4 separate regions of the Homo sapiens genome follow, and all the other regions are linked to region 4. The links come from fine-mapping of genetic effects on gene expression. A gene starts in region 4. Each other region holds a variant in brackets. All regions are shown on one strand. Distances are between the middles of the regions.

Region 1 (5,194 bases), 100 kb after region 4:
ATTACATTATGATAAAAGGACAAATTTACCAACAGGACATAACAGTCTTAATTAAATGTGTATGCACCTAACAGCAGTGCTTCAAAATACATGAAGCAAAACTGACAGAACTAAAAGAAGAAATAGACAAATCCACGACTGTAGTTGGAGACTTGAATATTATTCTCAAGTATTGATAAAATGGTAAACAGAAATTTATCAAGAATATAGGCTGCGCGTGGTGGCTCATGCCTGTAATCCCAGCACTTTGGGAGGCCGAGTTGGGCGGATCACGAGGTCAGGAGCTTGAGATCAGCCTGCCCAGCACGGTGAAACCCCGTCTCTACTAAAAATACAAAAAATTAGCCAGGCATGGTGGCGCGTGCTTGTAATCCCAGCTACTCAGGAGGCTGAGGCAGGAGAATCTCCTGAACCCAGGAAGCAGAGGTTGCAGTGAGCCGGATCGTGCCATTGCACTCCAGCCTGGGTGACAGAGTGAGACTCCGTCTCAGAAAAAAAAAGAAGAAGAATATAGAACAACACTACTTAATTGTTGTTTTCTAGATCTACTTGACATTTATAGAATGTTCCACCCAATGATTGCAGAATACACAATCTTTTGATGTACACACCGACCATGTGCTAAGATATACCGTATCCTAGATTGTAAAACAAACAATAACAAGAATTTAGAAATTGAAATTGTACAAAGTTATATTCTGTATTTATAATGGATTTATAATGAATTCAGACTAGAGATTATTAAGAGAAAGATGGTGGGAAAAATCTCAAAACATTTGGAAATTAAGTGACACATTTCTCAATAATCTATGGATAAAAATGGAAGTCTCAAAGCAAATGAAATGATATTTTCAAATGAATGGAAATGAAAATGCAACATATCAAAATTTGCAAGATGAGACTAAAGCCATGCTTAAGGGCAAGTATATAATATTAAATACTTATGTTAAAAGAGGAAAATATATAAATTAATAATCTAAACTTCCACCTTAGGAAGCCAAAAAAAAATAATAAATTTGAGAGCAGAAACCACTGCCATTGAATAACATAAAACAATAAAGAAAATCAATAGTACAGGAACCTGGTTCTTCGAGAGCATCAATAAAACTGAAAAACTCCTAGCAAGACTGACCAAAAAAAAAAGAAGAAGAAGGAAGACACAAATTACCAGTATTAGTAGTGAGATAAGAGATATCAATACAGATCCTGCACATCTTAAACGAATAAGGAAATGTTATGGATACTGTATAAATACATATTTGACAACCTAAATGAAATGGATAAATGCTCAAAAACCACAAGCTAAAAATACTTATCCAATATTAAATAAATAACCTAATTGGTCATAACTGTTAAAAAAATTAATTCCTATTATTAAATTTCCAAAAATAAAATCTTCAGACCCCGATGGTTTCACTGCCTAATTCTATCAAACATTTAAAGGAAAAAAAAAATGTGAATCCTACACAATTTTTTTCAGAAAACAGAAGAAGGAACATTTCCTAAGTTATGCAAATTATTATGAGTCCAGAATTTTTCTAATACCAAAACCAAACAAAAAAAATTATAAGACAACTATAGACCAACATTCTTCATGAACATTGACACAAAAATACTCAAGAAAATATTAGCAAATTGAACCTAGTAATATATAAATAGAATAATGCATCACAACCAAGTGGAGCTTATCATGGGTATTCAGGGCAGGCTTCATATTTTAAAATATTTCAGTGTAATTCTTTATATTAACAGTGTAAGGAAGAACAAAGACATGATCATATGAACCAATTCCAAAAATATATTTGACAAAATTCACCATCGTCTCGTCATAAAACCTCTCAGCAAACTAGGCATAGAAGGGAATTTTCTCATCATGATAAGGGGCTCTAAAAACAACAACAAACAAACTATAGATGAAAAAATCATACTAAATGGTGAAAGACTGTATGTATGTTTTCTCTATAAGATGGGAAGCAAGGCAAGGATACTTACTCGCAGAATACTATACAACCTTGTATGAAAGTTTTCACCAGTGCAATAAGACGAGGAAAAGAAATAACATGCATGCAGTTTGGAAAGAAAGAAACAATCTCTCCTTTTTTTCTAAAAAGTAATTTTCTATGTAGAATATCCAAGAAAGCTATAAAAATATTCCTAGAACTGATAAGTGAGTTTAGCAAGTTCTTAGGATACATGATTAACAACGTAAAAATCAAATGTATTTCTATCTCTATTAAGAAACAATTGAAAACCAGATGTTACAGACATTACCATTTATAATAGGTCAAAAAAGAAAGAGGAAAGGAAGGAAAGAAGGAAGGATAGGGAAGGAAAGGAAGAAAGAGAAAGAAATAAGAGAGAAAGAAAGAGAGAAAAAAGAAAG[A/AAAGG]AAGGAAGGAAAGAGAAAGGAAGAAAGAGAAAGAAAGAAAGAAAGAAAGAGAGAAAGAAAGAAAGAAAGAAAGAAAGAAAGAAAGAAAGAAAGAGAGGGAGGGAGGGAGGGAGGGAGATTCATGTATAAATGAACAGAATGTGTGGATGTTCCATAAGCTAAAAACTATGAAATACTTATGAGCAAAATTAAAGAACAATTAAATAAAGAGAGAAGCATAGCATGTTTGGTGATACAAAGATTCAACATATTGTCAAATCAACAATCCCCTTTACATTGATTAAGAGGTTTAACGCAATTCCAACTGATATTCCAGCAGAATTTTTTGTAGATTATAGGCAAACTAATTCTAAAATATATGTGGGAAAGCGAATAAACTAGAAAAACCAAAGCTATTTGGAAAAGAAAATAAAGTTGGAGGAGTCATGCTAGACGATTTTATGAATCAATAAAAAGTTACAGCAACCAAAATGGTGTGATATTAACAAAGCAATAGATCAATGGAACTGAGTAGAAAGTCTAGAAATACATCCACACAAATATGGCCTATTGATTTTGACAAATTTTCAAAGGCAATTCAATAAAGAATAGAGTTTTAAACAAATGGTTTTGCATCAATTGGACATACATATGCAATAAGATGAAGCTCACAGCTTATACAAAATTAACTTGTAATAGGCCATAGATCTCAATGTAAAGCCTAAATCTATAAAACTGTTAGAAGAAAACATGACCTAGGATTAGAAAAAGAGTTCTTAGATGTAACACCAAAAGCATGATCCGTAGAGAAAAAAAAAGTTGGAGTTTAACAAAGTTAAAACCACTTTTTCCGAGAAAACCACTGCTAAAAGGATGAAAAAAAAAAACAAGCTTTAAATTGACAAAAATTATTTCAAAATCACAAGTCCAATAAAGGACTTGTGCTGAGAGTTTATAAAGATTTCTCTAAACTCAATAATAACAAGTAGCTACCAATTAAAAAAGGAGCAAAAACTTGAATAGACATTTTGCTAAAGAGGACAGACAGATGGCAAACAGGCACATAAAAAGATGTGCAACAGCACCATCCACTGGGAAAATGGAAATTAAAGCCACAAGGAGAAAACACACACACACACACACCATGGGGCACATAGAGAAAAAGAAAAGAAACCTAACAACACGAAATGGTGATGATGTAGAGAAACTAGAACTCTCATATACTACTGGTGAGAGTGCAAAATAGTGCAGCCACCCTACAAAACAATTTAACAAGTCCTTATAATGTGACTTCCTTACTAGATGCCCAAAACATCCTACTTGTAGATATTTACCCCAGAGAAATAAAAACTTACGTTCACACAAAATCCAATACACAAATGTTTATTGTGGCTCTACTCATAATAACTAATACCTAGAAAAACTCAAGGACTTTCAACCAGTATGTGTCAGCTAAAGTCCAATCAAAAGACAGAAATCATGTAGTAATTTAAAAAGGGATATTATGATATAAATGATTATTTGGCTGTGATGAGAGACTGATTATAAGGACATGAATAGAACTCCAAAGAGTATCTCAGGGCTGAGAGATAGTAGAAAGACAAAGTTGCAAGTGGTCCCCTCCCCAAGACTGGGGTTCAGACATCACTAGAAGCAGTGTGGTGTAGCCCACTGAATGGCAAGGAAGGTCTCTTACGTGCCTGGGTCAGAGCTAGTTCACAGTTGCTGGGAAAGCTGGAAGCAAACCTGTCAGGTGCAGTCAAGCCATGGCTGGTGGGCAGACATGCAGCATGGCCAGGCCATGACTGCTTTAGGATGCAGGCGAGCTGTAGTTGATATGCGGGTACACAGGGCATTCAGAATGCCACTGTGGGCATGCGGCCTGGAGTGCACAGTGTCCACATCAGGAAGATATTGGGAGGTGGTCACCTGGCCTAAGCTAGTACTGCGAGGTCACTGAGCAACGGCTTCCTCTGGATATAGCTAGTGCAGAGCACCAACAGATGTCTACACACACACACTGCTGCCTGATGGTGCAGCACAAGTGAGAAAAAAAAACAGAACACAGCAGCTGGAACCAGACGGACCCTCCTGTAATGCTTGTCCAACTCCCTGTACCAAAGAGGTGAATACTATGCTCACTGTATAGGATGAATGCTTCAAAAATTCAATCCATTACACACAGCAGGTACTGAATGGTGAATTCAGAGCTGTGAGGTAATACATTGATAACTGGTGATAAATTGATAACTGGTATAGGGTGAATTAATTAACAAATAGTTGTACAAGCAAACCATGAAATACTTCTCAGCAATACAAAGGAATTCACCACTGAGACATGCACCAGCTTGGATAAATCTCAATGCAGTATGCTGGGTAGAAAAAGCTTATCTCTAAAGGTTACATGATTCCATTTCTATGACATTTTCAAAAAGTCAAAACAGTGACAGAACAGATTATTGGTTTCCAGGAGTTAGGGATGGAGGAGGGCGGGTCTCAAAGAAAGAGCATGTAACCTGATTGTCTTGGTGATTATGTGAATTTACATCCGTATTTAAATGCACACAACTGTAAATCAAACAAGCTAATTTTATTGTATGTTAATTTAAAAATAAAAATGTAAACCCATTCTCCCTAACCCTACCAAGATGTCCACTGCTCCTGGTGCACCTGATGAAGGTGATACCTTCTCTGTCTCCACCTCGTCTTCTGCCCCATGCAGTAAAGCCCCTAATGGTCCATTCTTCCAATGTGACTCTAACCTGGTTATTCTGCACAGCATTCACCTGGTTCATGGGGAATTGGATGCCCACTTTCCCCACCATTGCTCCC
Region 2 (5,169 bases), 290 kb before region 4:
ATCCCAGTGTGCCCAGGCCTGAGGGATCTCTTGGGCTGCAGGACATTCAATCCTAAAACCAGGACTATCTTGGGCAAACTAGGATGGCTGGTCATCCAGGGAAGGTAAGGGGCCAGCATGAAGATAGCAGTGTGACATTTAGTCATAATTACACCAAAATGGGACTTTCTTTCTCTATAATTGATCTTAACTTAGCTCATGAATCCCTACTTCTGCTTATGGTGGAAAAATTCAGTTTTTTCCAGCTGGTATGGTTTGAATGTGTCCCCACCCAACTCTCACCTTGAATTTTAATAATTCCCACTTGTCAAGGGTGAGGCCAGGCCGGGCACGGTGGCTCACGCCTGTAATCCCAGCACTTTGGGAGGCCGAGGTGGGCAGATCACGAGGTCAGGAGATCGAGACCATCCTGGCTAACACGGTGGAACCCTGTCTCTACTAAAAATACAAAAAATTAGCTGGGCGTGGTGGCAGGCACCTGTAGTCCCAGCTATTTGGGAGGCTGAGGCAGGAGAATGGCGTGAACCCGGGAGGCGGAGGTTGCAGTGAGCTGAGATCGCCCACTGCACTCCAGCCTGGGTGACAGAGCGAGACTCTGTCTTAGAAAAAAAAAAAAAAAGGGGGTGAAGGGGTGAGGCCAGGTGGAGATAACTGAATCATGGGGGCAGTCTCCCTGATACTGTTCTCAAGGTAGTGAATAGGCCTCATGAGATTTGATGGTTTTATAAAGGGCAGTTCCCCTGCACACACTCTCTTGCCTGAAGCCATGGCAGCCATGTAAGATGTGACATTGCTCCTCATTTGCCTTCTGCCATGATTGTGAGGCCTCCCCAGCCATGTGGAACTGTGAGTCCATTAAACCTCTTTCCTTGATAAATTACCCAGTCTTGGGTATGTCTTTATGAGCAGTGTGAGAACAGACTAATACACCATCTCAGGGTCACTCAGGTCCTCTCAGTCCTACATATGGTTACTTAAGGGTTTGAAAGAGCTCAAGATTCTTTGCCTTTCTTCTTTTCCTCTCTTCTCTCATTGCTGCCCACAATTGGAGCTGCTTAGTGATATGGACCTGGTCACTGCACCTTGTGCTGTTGATTTCTGTGTGTCCTGCATGGGCCCTGCATGGGTCCGTGGGGCACGTGCTTTGTAGGAATAGCCCAGGAACTTTCCAAAACCCTTCTGTAGCTTGCTGGGGTGATTTGAACCTTGAGACTTCCCTCAAGCCCATCTTCCCAGGTATCCCTCCCTCCCCTACCCACTGCCAACCCCCTTGTTGCCCATCCACAGGCTCCATCGTGGAGTGGGCTTCAATCCAAGGTTTACAGTCTCTGGCTGGAGCCTGGAAATCAACACAATTTCCTCGTTTTCTCATGCCCCCTACTCCCTAACTTCCATTTCTGCCCCAACCCTAGTCATCTTCCCTCAGTGTTCATTGTGTTATGTGCTGGTTCAAACGTGTACTTCCCTTGAACAGGAACTCTCTGGTTTATGGCATAACGTTATGCTCCAGGCTCTTGATATATAAGGATATGTTCTAGAGTTCCAACAAATAAAAGCAAAAATAAAACCAAAATTCTTCTCTCTCAAGTGGCAGACTTAAAAGTCAAGGTTTTTAAGATTCACATTTTGAAAAATCAGCTTGGTGACTATGCTGGTTTCTCGACTCCATCCTGTGCTTGCCCTCCTGTCAGGGCAGTGCCCGGCGAATGCAACCTGCTGCCTTAGTGTGGGGGCAGAAGGCATAGGGGAGGATGGAGGAGAGAGTCGGCTCTGGAGTGAGGTTTGAAGGCTTACTGGAGATGTGTGACCGGAGATTGACTTTAAAGGGCAAACTTTGGCTAAGGGGGTGCGGGGGCTGGAAACCCCTTCCACAGAAGAAACCTGGCAAGAATCAAAGCACAAAGTTGGCTGCGCCTGGTGTCAGCCCCTGATAAGCAGCCTGACTGCAGGGGAGGACGTGGCTACAGGGCAGATAAGATGTAAGGGTGGCTGAGGAGGTCCCTGGGCAGTTTATCTCATACCTCCCACTGGCTTCTGCGAGCCCAGGTGGGTGCCAAGGTTAGCCACCTCCCCCAAACCTGCTCTCCTATTCGCAGCACAACCCTCCTGGACAAAGCGTTTTTCCTCAGCCTTCACCACCCATGGAGGAGGTGTGATTACCTCTATTCACAGAAAGGAGACTGGGACCCAACCAAGGCAAGTCATTTGCTTCAGACCACAGAGCAAAGAATCATTCTGTCATTCCAGAAATATTTGTCAGGCGCCCCTGGTGTGTCAGGTAGGTGCACCTTGAACATTTGTTTAATTTGTACTTAATAACATTTTCAAGAGGACATTACCTCCTTAAGTGAAAAATCTGTGAGGAGTTTTCTATCTTTCTAAGTCTTTGTGGCACACTTATCACATGCATAGTACTATTTCTCAAGTTACCCAGGCACACACAGATGTATGGCTTTCAGGAAGCCATACATCTGTGTAGCTCTGAGGCCCAGCCTTGTTCAACACTTCACTCAGAAGAATTGCTGGCCTGATGACCAACAATAATTGTCAACAACTTAAAACTTCATTGACGGCTCCTAAAAAAAATCAGTGTGCATGTGTGTGTGTATGTGTGTGTGCGTGTGTGTGTGTGTGTGTGTATGAGTGTGTGTATAACATTCATTACTGCAAACTGGAATGGAGTGGGGCTGGAAGGCAGCCCAGAAGCAAGGCTCAGAGCCTGGAGCTGCTGACCTCTTGGGGACACTGCAGCCCTGGCCTGGCCTACTTTTCTCTTCTCCCATATCTGGAAAATGAAAGTAGCCTGACGTATCCGGGGACCCGGCCCAAGACTCCACCCATTGGCAGCTCTTCACTTGTATCTTTTCATATCAAAAATGGGAGGTGACACCCAGTTTAAGGAAAATTCCAAGGCATTTGTCTCGACTAATGTGAAAGATGATTACAGTGGCCAGAGGACTGCCAAGGCTCCTTCTCAAGCTGCTTGAGTCAATGAGGGTAAGGTTTTAAAGGGCCCGCCCTGGCTTCCTTGGGCCTGTAGTTTGTGACTGTGTCGTTTTCAGAGTGGGAAGGCCCAGAGTTGGCCCCATGGAATTCTTTCTGCTTCTA[G/A]GGTGTTTGAAGAGATAGAAAGCCAGGGTAAGGTTCACCGAACCTCCAAGCAAAAATAAATTTCCAGAAGGGGCCCCTTTACTCTGAGGACATTGAATAGCAACAAAAACTACCACTGAAGAGTCATTTTGTCCCAGGCCCTGTGCTGGAAACTTTGAACACCTGTGTTCACCCCTCCCTCATGACACTCATGAAGATATACCATGGCTGTCTTTATTTTCTAGGTGGGAATCTCAGGCTTGAGGGTTGGGGTGGCTTGGGGAAGGTGTGTATCTAAGAGGTAGCTCTTATTTATTTTTACTTCTAGAGATTAAGACACATTCTTTTTCAAGATAGACATGGAACTGTCAAAAAGGATTAAAAGTTAAATAAGGATAAGGTTATGTAAATTGATCTTATGTAAAAAAAAACACTAAGATATTTGAAGACTAGGCATCATTATGTGTTATATCATGATTTTTAAAATGATGCTACCAAGAGTACTTCAGAGGTCCAAAGCTGAAATATATTTGTATACTTATATATATAAAGTAAGGGATACTTATTTAAAACCTCAAAAAATCAGAAGTATGTAAAGGAAGAAATAAAAGCTCCCTCTTCCCTTCTGATTCTAATTTATATCAAATTTATATCTCTATCTGTAGCTCAATTTGCCTTTTTAACTAAATAGGGTGATATCACACATATCATTCCTTAACACTTTTCTCTCTTAACGACTTCTAATGGACATCTATTTGTGGCACTGTATATAGGGCATACTTTCTTGAAAAATCCATTGCATGGTATTTTATTCTTGAATAAATCACTTGCATGGCATTTTATTGTAAGATTGTGTCATAATGTATTTATTCAGTTCCCTGGTGATGGCTTTATCATGTGGCTTTTGGCTGAAAGTATCAGAAAGTGGCCCAAACTGGCTTACATAAATTTACCATCTCATGTAACTGAAGTTCAAAGAAAGAGTGGCTTCTGAGTGGGTTCCATACTACTAGCATAATATTTGGCATTTCCCTGTATGTCCCCTCCTCTGTGTGTTGGTTTTGTTTGAAGATTCTTTCCCTTTATGGTGGCAAAATGGTTTTTGTAGTGGCACCAGGCTTTACAACCTCTTGTGAGGGAAGAGGGAGAAATGCCATGCCTTAATGTGCCAAGAAGGAGGTGTGAGATCCACCCTGGTTGAACCCCATGGTGCCGGTGTCCTCTCCTAGACCAGTGGCTGCCAAGGGCCATCTTCCGAGGAAGCACCTGGACTATACATCCTCCACAATGGGCCCTTAGAATTGGTCCATATTTTTCAAAATTGCAAATAATGTGTAAAATCATTGTACTTGGCCGGGTGTGGTAGCTTATGCCTGTAATCCCAGCACTTTGGGAGGCCGAAGTGGGGGGAATCAGCTGAGGTCAGGAGTTCGAGACCACCCTGGCTGACACGGCAAAACCCCGTCTCTAGTAAAAATACAAAAAAATTAGCTGGGCATGGTGGCCTGTGCCTGTAATCCTAGCTACTAGGGAGGCTGAAGCAGGAGAACTGCTTGAACCCGGGAGGTGGAGGTTGCAGTGAGCCGAGATTGTGCCATTGCACTCCAGCCTGGGTGACAGAGCAAGACTCTGTGTCACCAAAAAAAAAAAAAAAGAAAAAAATTCGTACACTTTACATATAGCACTGTTTACTTGGGCAATTATCTGTTTAGGATAAACTAGAAATAATATTGCTAAGCCAAATAGAATATAGGTTTTAAAAGTTTGGCGCTTTATCCTCCAAAACAGATTTTAATAGTTTACACTTGTAATAGATGTACCTGGTTTCTTATACCTCACTTACTGGAATATTAGAAATCGTTTAGTCTCTACCAAAACATGGCATTTTTCTATTATCTTAATTCACATTTCTTTGGTTATTAGTAATCTTGAACATGTTTTTCACGTCTATTGGCTTTTTGCTTTTTGCTTATTGCTTTTTGCTTCTTTCTTTTTTCTTCTGTGGACTGTTTATTCATGTCTTTTGCAGTATTCTCTCTTGGATTTGTGAGAATTGTTTATTTATTATAAACATTAAACCTT
Region 3 (5,205 bases), 53 kb after region 4:
GTGTGTGTTTATTTTTGTTCAAAACCTTTTCTGCAACTTTGGAGGTGACCATATAGTTTTAGACCATATAGACCATTCATATTCCATAGAGAATGTTAATGTTTTCATAATATCAAACCAACTTTGCAGTTATGCAATCCTAATGAATTTTAAAAATATGTATTTTATGTGCTAATATTTTATTTAGAACTTTGTATATATACTTCTAAGTAAGATTTGTCTGTAGTTGTGTGTATGTGTGCAAAACCTTTGCCATAGCATCCCATTATTAAATATTAGTAGACAGTGAAAAATCCTTACATATTTAAGAAAATCCTTTACTATGAAAGGCCATGATTAACAAATAACAAAATGGAACTTGGAGATAACAGAGATAAGCCAAAGGAAAAACATATTTAAAGAACAAACTTTAATATTTTCAGAGAGACAAGAAAAGATATTACATCAGAGCATAATAAAGATGAGTTGGAAATTAGAAATGAATTAGCTAAAGTGGAAAAGACAATATCAGGGTTGGAGGATAATGAAGTGTTACCCAGAATGTAAAACAAGGAGCTAAATAAATGAAAATAGAGAAAAAATAGAAGAATTTGCAAATTAGTCTAATAACATTTTTGGAAATAAGAAAGCATCTCAAAATAGAATGATATGAAGCTCCAGATTGAAAGAGCCCACCAATTAATTACTCAGCAAAATGGAGACAGAACTGCCTTAACATTTTGGAAGAAAATATTATGTATTGCCTAAATTTCTCTACTGAGTCAAACAATTATTCAAATATGAGGGTAAAATAGATATTTTCAGACAAGTAAGGCCTCAAGATATTTCCTGCCATGTCCCTTTGTCTGAGATCTCCTGGAAGAAGCGGTCCTCCATAAAGGGAACATATAGTACTTTGGGCTTCAGGGAAATGGAATCCAGCTAAGGAAAATGGTGGAAGGCATCTCCAGATCTCCAGACTGATGATAAATGGAAATCCAATGCTGGAAATTGTGCATTTGCCATATTTAAGCAGAAGAGCAAGTTCTAGGTAGATGGTCTTTAGGAAGGAGATTTCCTAATGTGTTGAATGCATTGAAAATGCATTAATGTGAGAATGCATTAATTTTCCACTAGAAATACATTTCTAGTGGAGAATTTAAAAAAATATTAATGAAAGATATAAAGAAATTTAACTAAATGAATACAAATAATTTTTTGTACTATTCAAGGACTGATAATGAATAATAATAGAATTTAATTTGGAAAATGCAAGAAGGGGATCATTGAAAATTTGATAGGATCAGTGTAAATTTCTTTTGTTACTAAATGAGTGCTGGAATTTGAATATTTTGGAAAGTAAGTTGGGTGACAGGAGGTAATTGCCAAGGGAGTGGGTTGCTTTCAATTGGGAATATAGAGGCATAGCAATTATTAGCAATGACAAGTCTAGGTTATGATTACAGGAATAAATAGTGAAGTAAGGATGGAATACAAGAGCTTTAGAGGAGAGGAAGTCAAAGAACTGAGAGACGGGGACGTTAAACGGATCATCTATATCAATGCTAATACCAAGAATCAAAGCAGGAAGAGTTCTGAAGAGTAAGAGTAAGCCCAGAACTAAACTCTTCAGGGAATAAAGCAGAGTGTCCCAGGGCTTTGTGGATGACTGCAACAAGTAGGGATACTGGGTGGGATAGCCCAAGGACATGATATTTGAAGCTGGGGGTTCTTAGGGAGGAGGGAGGTACAGTGGCTGGAAACCAATGGTACCTGGAGTCTGGGAGGGAAAACAACCACCATGTAAGTGAGCTGCTAGAGAAACTATGTCCTGAGGGGAGACTCAAGCAGCAGGTTGTGGGGGACAGATGATTGAAAGTCTAGAGAAGAGCGTGAAAATATTAGAGCTCATCGCCTTCACCATCTACACGTAAGGTTTAAAAAAAATTAATGAAAATTCAGTGAATTATCTCGAGAAGCCATCCTTCAGTCCTCAGGTTGGCTAAGAGCTCCTCTCCTGTGTTCTGCTGTGTATCTTTGTCTAGCATTACAGTATAAGAAGTGACCTTTAGAGATTCTGCTCCCTCAACTCAACTGTTAACCCTTGAAGGACAAAAATCATCTCATATTCATCTGTAAGATGACAGTTCCCAGTGAGAAAAGAAAAAGAGTTCAGAGCAGCATGAGCCATGTGAGGTATGCAAAGTTTATCAGGCCCAGAGAGACATAAGTATGAGACTAAAGTCATGGCCTCTCTCCACCCATGCCTGGTGGCATCTTCCTGCCCCCAAGCATGACTAATTCAAGCCAATTAGGCCTTCCCGCTTTATGGTTGGAGGTCAGGCTCGCATCCATGGCATAGACAAGATCTAGGGAACTCAAAGGTTACC[G/A]ACAGCAGGGGAAAGGCAGCGCGTAGGTAAATGCGGACAGTTCCCACTCCCAGGCCCCCTGTTAACATGGGTGAAAAGCTGCATTGGCACCCACGGGTTGCACCCTGCTGAGGTCACTAGGACTTGGGAATATAAGGATGGAAGAAAGAAAAGGGGATGCTTCTTTCTCTCCCTCACATACCCCAGGTATTTGCTGGGAAGATAAAGAAACTAAGGATGCCTTTTTCCCTTCTTTCTAGATGGGTAACCAATCATCTTCAGCGTGTGTTTCTCTCAAATGCCTCCTGAATCACTGGGATTCCTTTGAGGAAAAAAGAAAAAGCCTTCTTTCCCCTTTTGCCTCCTCTGTCCTCTCTTCACAGATGGGTAATTGTGTCCCCATACCACAGGACACTCCCCTTGGGTGCACCCCCCAAACAGGGAAAACTTAATTACCCCAAACCTTAAGCTGCTTGGCTTAAAACCGAGCTCAGGGGAAGGGAACCCAGAAGTCTGACATGCCGGCAAAAGGATAAAAGTTTTTACCAGTCGGATTTCTGGCTTCCCTCTCCCTGTACAAATGATTGAATGGATGATAAAATCACTGTTTATATCCTCTGTGAAGTTTGGATTAATGGAAAAAAGAATTTATGAGGCCAGTCTTAAGCTGTAACCAATCTGGTGTGCTTGGCGTGACTTTCTATATGGTTCTGCATGAAGAGGAGTACCTTAGGATAGAATATGGGCCTAGGACCCCATAAGCCTACTGTTCAAGCCAGCCAGGCAAATGGTCAGCAACCAGCTTCGGGTCTCCATCTTGTTTTATGTTCTTGGGAGTTTGACATTGTAACCATGTGGCAATACTTTGTTTTGGTCTCTGCCATTTTATAACGGCAGCCTGGGTTCAATTCTGGCTTAGGGAATGAGTACTTTCTGGTTAATATCGTGTGACTTTTACCATTTGCTGATTTTCTTCCCCTCTGTGAACAACTTCTAGCTTCCTTTCTTAAATCTTCCTTTCTCAGAGTCACCTTTAAAGATTCCAGATTTTGTAAAAACTGCTTACCACTACTTTGAAAATACCTCATACACTCACAGTTAAGTCATAACCTTAGTTGAGGCTTGTTGGTTTCATCTGTGAGGTTACTTTCCATAAAGTTCAAAAGCCAGAAATATTGGCCGCGTGGCCTGGCTAAAGTCGGTTAACAGGGGACTTAAAAAGACTTTCTTAAAGAGTGCTCAGCTTAATTAAAAGTGGATATCCAAGGTATTGGTATATTTAAAAGGCCTTTTTTTTTTCCTTGGATCTTGTTTTTCTGGAAAAAGGCTTTTTCTCAGTCAACTGAATTATTTTTTTCCATTTAGTCTTGCCATTCTCGGTGCACGCATGAGAGGCCCTAAGATAACTTGTGAGAGCATGGGACTCCTTGGGAAAAACAGAGAAGGTGCTAGAGACCCCATTTTGGGAAGAAAGCTCTGTTTTCCTTATGGAACCCCGAAATTAAAAACAGATAGGTCCCTCCCAAAATCTGTTTTTGTTTTCCAGCTATGCCTGTTTCTTGGGCCCTGAAAACTGCATGCTTTCCTAGCCCTGCTTCTTGAAGGACTCCACCCTGAGGCCAATGACCCAATTAGGAGATAGGCAAATGAAAAAATCTTTTTTTGTTTTTGAAACAGCATCTTGCTCTGTCACCCAGGCTAGAGTGCAATGCTGCAGTCTCTGCTCACTGCAACCTCTGCCTCCCGGGTTCAAGCGATTCTCCTGTCTCAGCCCCCCGAGTAGCTGGGATTACAGGTGCACACCAAAACACCCAGCTAATTTTTGTATTTTTAGTAGAGATGGGGTTTCACCATGTTGGCCAGGCTGGTCTCGAACTTCTGACCTCAAGTGATCTGCCCACCTTGGCCTCCCAAAGTGCTGGGATTACAGGCATGAGCCACTGTGCTCGGCTCCAAATGAAAAATCTTACAACTACTGGATCTTCTTCTGTCTGTCTGTGTAATCATATGTGTTATGTGTGTGATGGTTATATAAAACAGCTCTAATTCATTGACCTAAAGAAAAATAAACACTTAGATCAAATATTTTTCAAGGAGAAATAAAAGCTGTAATGCCTTTTAGTTCATGTGACTTTAATCTTTGAAACATAAAAACAGTTTTAAAGATAATTGGTAAAGTGCAAATGTCTTCATATGTAAATATATGGTCTAAATTATGTGGGTCAGATACTAGGTTTGCTAAATGTTTTAAGGTTATAAACTACTTTTTTAGCTTTTGAGAACCATTTGATTTGTATACTTTACAATTTGGGAAGGCTTGTGGACATATGGAATTGCCCACCCCTTTAACTATGCTGGAAAGAGTAAGACCTTATCTGTGAATAGAACATAATTAAAATAACTTACCAGAGGCCAGTCTGAGGGCTCCAGTGCCCAAGTAGAGGCAGCAGGTGGCTCCCAAGGCCTGGGCCAGCCGGCCTTCTTCAGTCTGAAGGCCACGCCCTTCTTCCTGCTGCTGTCCAGTTGTCTTTTGACTGCCACATATGGACCCCCAAAGATCTCCAAAGGAAACTTTCCTCATTACAGGAGGAGGTGGCTATTTTGGTTTCCACCTGGGCCATGCTCTGAACCAAAAGGGAGTCCACGTAATTCTATTTGACATCAGCAGTCCTGCTCAAACCATTCCAGAAGGAATCAAGTTTGTACATGGAGACATCCGCCACCTCTCTGACATAGAGAAAGCCTTGACACAGATGTCACATGTGTGTTCCATATTGCCTCTTATGGTTTGTCAGGGAAGGAGCAACTAAATCAAAACCTGATCAAAGAGGTCAGCATTGGGAGTACAGACAACATC
Region 4 (5,000 bases):
TTGCCTGTTCAAGGGTCTTCTCTGTATTTTTATGAAATATTTACGGTTCTAGCTTTTATGTTTAGGTCCATGGTCTATTGTGAATTGATACTTGTATATAGAACAAGGCAAGGACAAAGTTCTTTTTTCTGCTGCTGCTTCTTCTGTAGAGGTACCCAGCTGTTCCAGCAATGTTTGTGAAAGACTGTTTTTTCCCCACTGAATTGACATGGTGCTTTGTTAAAAAAATCAATTGACTAGATATGTGTGGATCTATTAGTCTACTTTCTATTTTGTATGTTTGTATGTTTCTGTGAATATCACATTGCCATAATTACTATTGCCTTATTATAAATCCTCAAGTCAGTATAAGTCTCTCAACTTTGTTCATCTTTGTCAAGATTGCCCAGACAGGCCGGGCAGGTGGCTCACCCCTGTAATTTCAACACTTTGGGAGGCTGAAATGGGTGGATCACCTGAGGTCGAGAGTTCAAAACCAGCCTGACCAACACGGAGAAACCCTGTCTCTACTAAAAATACAAAAGTAGCCAGGCGTGATAGTGCATGCCTGTAATCCCAGCTACTCGGGCGGCTGAGGCAGGAGAATCGCTTGAACCCGGGAGGCGGAGGTTGCAGTGAGCCGAGATCGCGTCATTGCACTCACTCCAGCCTGGGCAAGAAGAGCAAAACTCCGTCTCTGTCCGGACAATCCTAGATTATTTGCATTTTCATATGAATTTTAGAAACAGCTTCTTAATTTCTTTGAAAAATTTTCCTGGGATTTGGATTGAATTGTATTAAATATATAGATTCTGTAATATATAGAGTCTAAAAATATACAGTGTGGAGAATAGATGTCTTAAGTCTTCCAATCCGTAAACGTGGTATATCCCTTTATTACTTAGATGTTTCATCTCTGTTAGCAATATTTTGTAGTTTTCACAGGAGATATCTCATATATTATCCAATGAATTTATACTTTGGTATTTTGATTTTTAAATGCTATGGTAAATGGCATTTTTAACAAACTTCACTTTTCAAGTTTCCATCTCTAATATATAGAATTGCTATTGATTTTTATATTCCATGATCTTGATAAACTTAATATTTCCAGTAGTTTTTTTTTTTGTAGATTTCAAAAGTTGGTCTACATATAATTATGCTCTCTGTTAAAACCAGTAGTTTTAATTCTTTCTTCTCAATCTTTATGCTTTCTAATTTTATTTTTATTTCTTCACTTGTTGCAAAGCAGTTGTCCCAGGTGGGAGCCAAAATCCTTATCTCATTACTAATCTTAGGAAAAAGTAAAATGTTTCACTATTATGAGGTCACCTGTAGGTTTCTTATAGATGTTCTTTATCAGATTAAGAAAGATCATTTCTACTCTCGGTTTTCTGATCGTTATTAATTCAGAAAGGGTGTTGAATTTTGCCAGATGCTTTTATTTGCATTTATTGAGATAATTACATATTTTTATTTATTATGTGGTGAATTATCTAAATTGGGTAAAAAGAATTAAAATCATTGTCCAATTGAACATTTTGCCTGTCGGCTATGGGTTTCCCTTTTCCTTTGGTTAAATAACAGTTCTGCCACAAAATAAAAATCTAGAAACACACATTCCCCTTTGGCCTCCTTAAAAAAAATTAAAACTTCAACAATTGCACCCCTCTCTATTACTTCCCTATAGTGAACTCCCATCCTTCTGGGAAAGCAAAAAGCCTGGGGCGCATTTGTGTACTTGAGACGCGGAGCCCCTCTCACCTTCGGCATCCCCCGGGGACCCCTCTTCCACCCTCAGCCCTCCCCTCCTCTTCCTCTGAAGAGCCGGGCGGCCGCTGCGGCCAGCGGTCCTCCCTCCTGGCATCCTCTGCTGTGAACCGCGGCCTGCAGGGTGCTTGCGAGCGGCCCGGGCGCGCCCCCTTCCGGCCCCGCAGGTCACCCGGCTACAGCCCGGGTTTTCCCGGGACCCGCGCCGCGCGGCTGGGCAGGAAGCGCCAGACGCCTGGGGCCCACGCCGTCCGCGGGAAAAGGGCAAGGCGCTGGGTTTTCCAGCAGCAACCTTTGGACCCCGCGATCCAGTAGCTCCGGTAACTCCACGCGGGGCGTCTGGGTGGAGGAGCCGGTCCTGGAGCACGGCTGCGAGGAGCACCCGGACCGGAGGGTCCCCAGACCGGGACCTCCGAGTCAGGGAGGATTCTACGCCAGGGAGCGCCCCAGACTGAGAGCGCCCCAGACCGCTACACTCCCGGACCCGGAGCTTCGCCCGACCGCGGGCAGTGCCCACCTGCAGCCTCCACCGGCCGGGGTTAGCAGCCAGGAGCTGCCAGACGCCTGACATTCTTCTTTCTGTTCCTACTTTTTTTCCTTCTTCTTCTTTTTTTTTTTTTTTGTAGCCCTCTCTGGGTGCCTTATCTCTTTAATCACACCTCTCTTTCACTTTCCACGGTAGTCAGGAGGCGGAGATCGCTGCTTCTCACCTACTTTCTGAACTTGGCCTCCGCAGTCGCGACCTGGCGTGAAGGAGGAGCTGCCGCCCCCGCCCCAGCCTCGGGGACGCCTCTCTGAAGGTAAGGGTGGGCTCCGCTGCCACCCGCATCCCCTCCCCACCCCCCAGAGGAAGGGAAGACCACCATCCGGGGAGGGATTCTCAAAACAAGATCAATTAAGAGAGAGAGAGAGATAGTGTGTGTGTGAATACGTGTGAATAATTGATGAGACAGCATCCTGTCTTTCTCTGAAAGTATAGTTTTAGAAATTAAGACATCCCCAATTATTTTCTGGAGAGGTGAGAACGACTGAAATAAATGATAACAATAGTTGTCATTTTTTAAGTGCTTACTGTGTGCCTGACACTGTAGAAAATTTTTAGATATCTTATTTTCACTTAATCCTCCTAAGGGCCACATGAAATAGGAACTATTATTATGCTTTAATAAAAGGGAGGAGGAATTCCGTCATTTACCCAAGAGTATCCAGCTACTAAGTAGTAGATCCCAGATCCACACCTACAGTTTTTCTGATTCCAGAGCCTTTGTCTTTTTTCTGCCCAGCCTTGGGAAGTTAAAATGCCCAGCACCTTGCATCGCAGTTATCAGACAAATTAATGAGGTGTCAATTGCAGCCAGATACAGAGATCCAAGATTATTGTATTCATTTCACTGACTTCCCTTGCTTCATTCTCAAGACCCTTTGCAAATACTGATTTTGTGTCATACACAGTGCTGCTATTGGGAGCACACCTCTCAACCTCAGGGCCTTGGATGGGCTAGGAGGGGTAAATTTGGGGAATTGGGTTTGTGCAGGTTCTGGGGACAGTGTTTTCCCTCTCCCTGCACAAATATACATCCAAAGGCTGAGAACTAAGGCTAAGGCCTAGGAATGTGGATTGAAAAGGCAGGGTCTAAATCCCAGCACTTGGGAGGCTGAGGTGGGCGGATCATGAGGTCAGGAGATCGAGACCATCCTGGCTAACATGGTGAAACCCCGTCTCTACTAAAAATACAGAAAATTAGCCAGGCATGGTGGCATGCATCTGTAATCCCAGCTACTCGGGAGGCTGAGGCAGGAGAATCCCTTGAACCTGGGAGGCAGAGGTTGCAGTGAGCAGAGATTGTGCCACTGCACTCCAGCCTGGGCGACAGAGTGAGACTCTATCTCAAAAAAAAAAAAGAAAAAAAAGAAAAGGCAGGGTCCCTGCCTTCAGGGACCTCACCAGAGAGTGGGAGCTAGTCCAGGAGTGATGGAAACACCTGCAGAGTGATGGAGACGGGCTTGGACATAGGCATGTGCCATTTGGGGCTGTTGCAGTTGGAGAGCTTCCTTGAGAAGGCAAATACTGAGCCAAGTTGAAAGGACTCTAGGGACCTGGCATCTGGGATAAGTGGGGAGGGTGGCCCAGGTAGCACAGGCATAGGCAGATTTGGGGGGAAGCATAAGGCTAACAACAGACACTTGTGTGACAAGGACTATGAGGTGGCATTGATTTTCTTGGCCTTACAGATGAGAAGCCAGATTCCACACAAATTATTTTGTTTGTTAGAGTTTAAGCGTGTGTGTGTGTGTGTATGTTATGCCCCAAGATCATTTTCTCCTCTTTGCATTTGGTTGTTTTATCATCTCACAGGCTGAGTAAAACGACTATGCATGGAACACTGTAGAAGAAAAATTATATTAAAAAAAAACTGGTGTTATGATTTTCATCCAGGCATTTTGTCTCAGGAGTTGCTCGATTGTATGTGTTGCTAATGAGTGATTTATATTGAGGCATCTACATTGATTCATGTGTGTCCTTGTGAATAGCTGTAATCTGAGGCTGGCCATTTCACTTCCTCAAATCTCAGGTTCCTCATTAGAAAGAGCTTTGAAATGGCTCTTTCCCTGTACATTATGTGTTTCTGTGAATTACTTTTAGAGAAAGGTCAGTTTCTCAGGGTGGGACCCATAAACAAGGGCAACTGGGCAGAGCCAGGGGTTCAGGTGACTGTTTGGACCCTCTGGAAGGGCTTTTTACTGTGCTGCCTTGGGAGACAGAGTGGTCAGCTTGGAACTGACCTTAAGCCTAGGTCACCCAATTTTTGAAGGAAACTTTTTTTTTTCATTTAGAGAAAACTTCATGCCTTTGGGTGATTAGGTAAGTTTGTGACTATTCGTTATGTGTGTGTACACACACGTACGTACATATGTACATGCACAAATATTTAATATGTCTTAGACACACCAAATATATGCATTTAAGATGTATTAAATGTACTTTCCTGAGAATACAAATAAGTGCCCTACGTCGGCGGCTCTCTTCCTGACTGTATGTTAGAGTCACCTGCGGAGTTCTGAGGACTCAAGATGCCCAGTCTGTCCTCCAGACCACTGGGTGGAGCCCGGGCATCATTATTTTTTTCCAAACTTGGGTGAGAGCTGGTGGCCTAGACTTCACATTAGTTGCTAAAACATACTTTCCAAGATATCATGCGTTAAAAAGCATTTCAAAAGTAGATTGTGCAGATGTGCCAATGGATCAGATG

Evidence for each region. PIP is the estimated chance that this variant, and not a neighbour inherited with it, causes the effect.
Region 1: its variant is fine-mapped to the expression of IL18R1 in whole blood (INTERVAL, PIP above 0.99).
Region 2: its variant is fine-mapped to the expression of IL18R1 in transverse colon (GTEx, PIP 0.99).
Region 3: its variant is fine-mapped to the expression of IL18R1 in whole blood (TOPMed, PIP above 0.99).

What each region holds. Positions count from the first base shown.
Region 1 is chr2:102,457,214-102,462,407 of GRCh38, forward strand. No RefSeq gene overlaps it. Among named protein-coding and RNA genes, the nearest start is that of SLC9A4, 13 kb to the right of the region's middle. The variant A/AAAGG (reference allele first, on the strand shown) is at 2,384.
Region 2 is chr2:102,067,537-102,072,705 of GRCh38, forward strand. It overlaps a transcript of IL1R1 not described here. Among named protein-coding and RNA genes, the nearest start is that of IL1R1, 73 kb to the right of the region's middle. The variant G/A (reference allele first, on the strand shown) is at 3,109.
Region 3 is chr2:102,406,352-102,411,556 of GRCh38, forward strand. It overlaps the pseudogene SDR42E1P5. Among named protein-coding and RNA genes, the nearest start is that of IL18RAP, 14 kb to the right of the region's middle. The variant G/A (reference allele first, on the strand shown) is at 2,370.
Region 4 is chr2:102,353,852-102,358,851 of GRCh38, forward strand. IL18R1 (interleukin 18 receptor 1) reads left to right here and starts at 1,945. Exons shown (of 11, transcript NM_003855.5): 1 at 1,945-2,549. RefSeq lists an enhancer at 1,714-2,215 and silencers at 1,810-1,919, 1,940-1,999.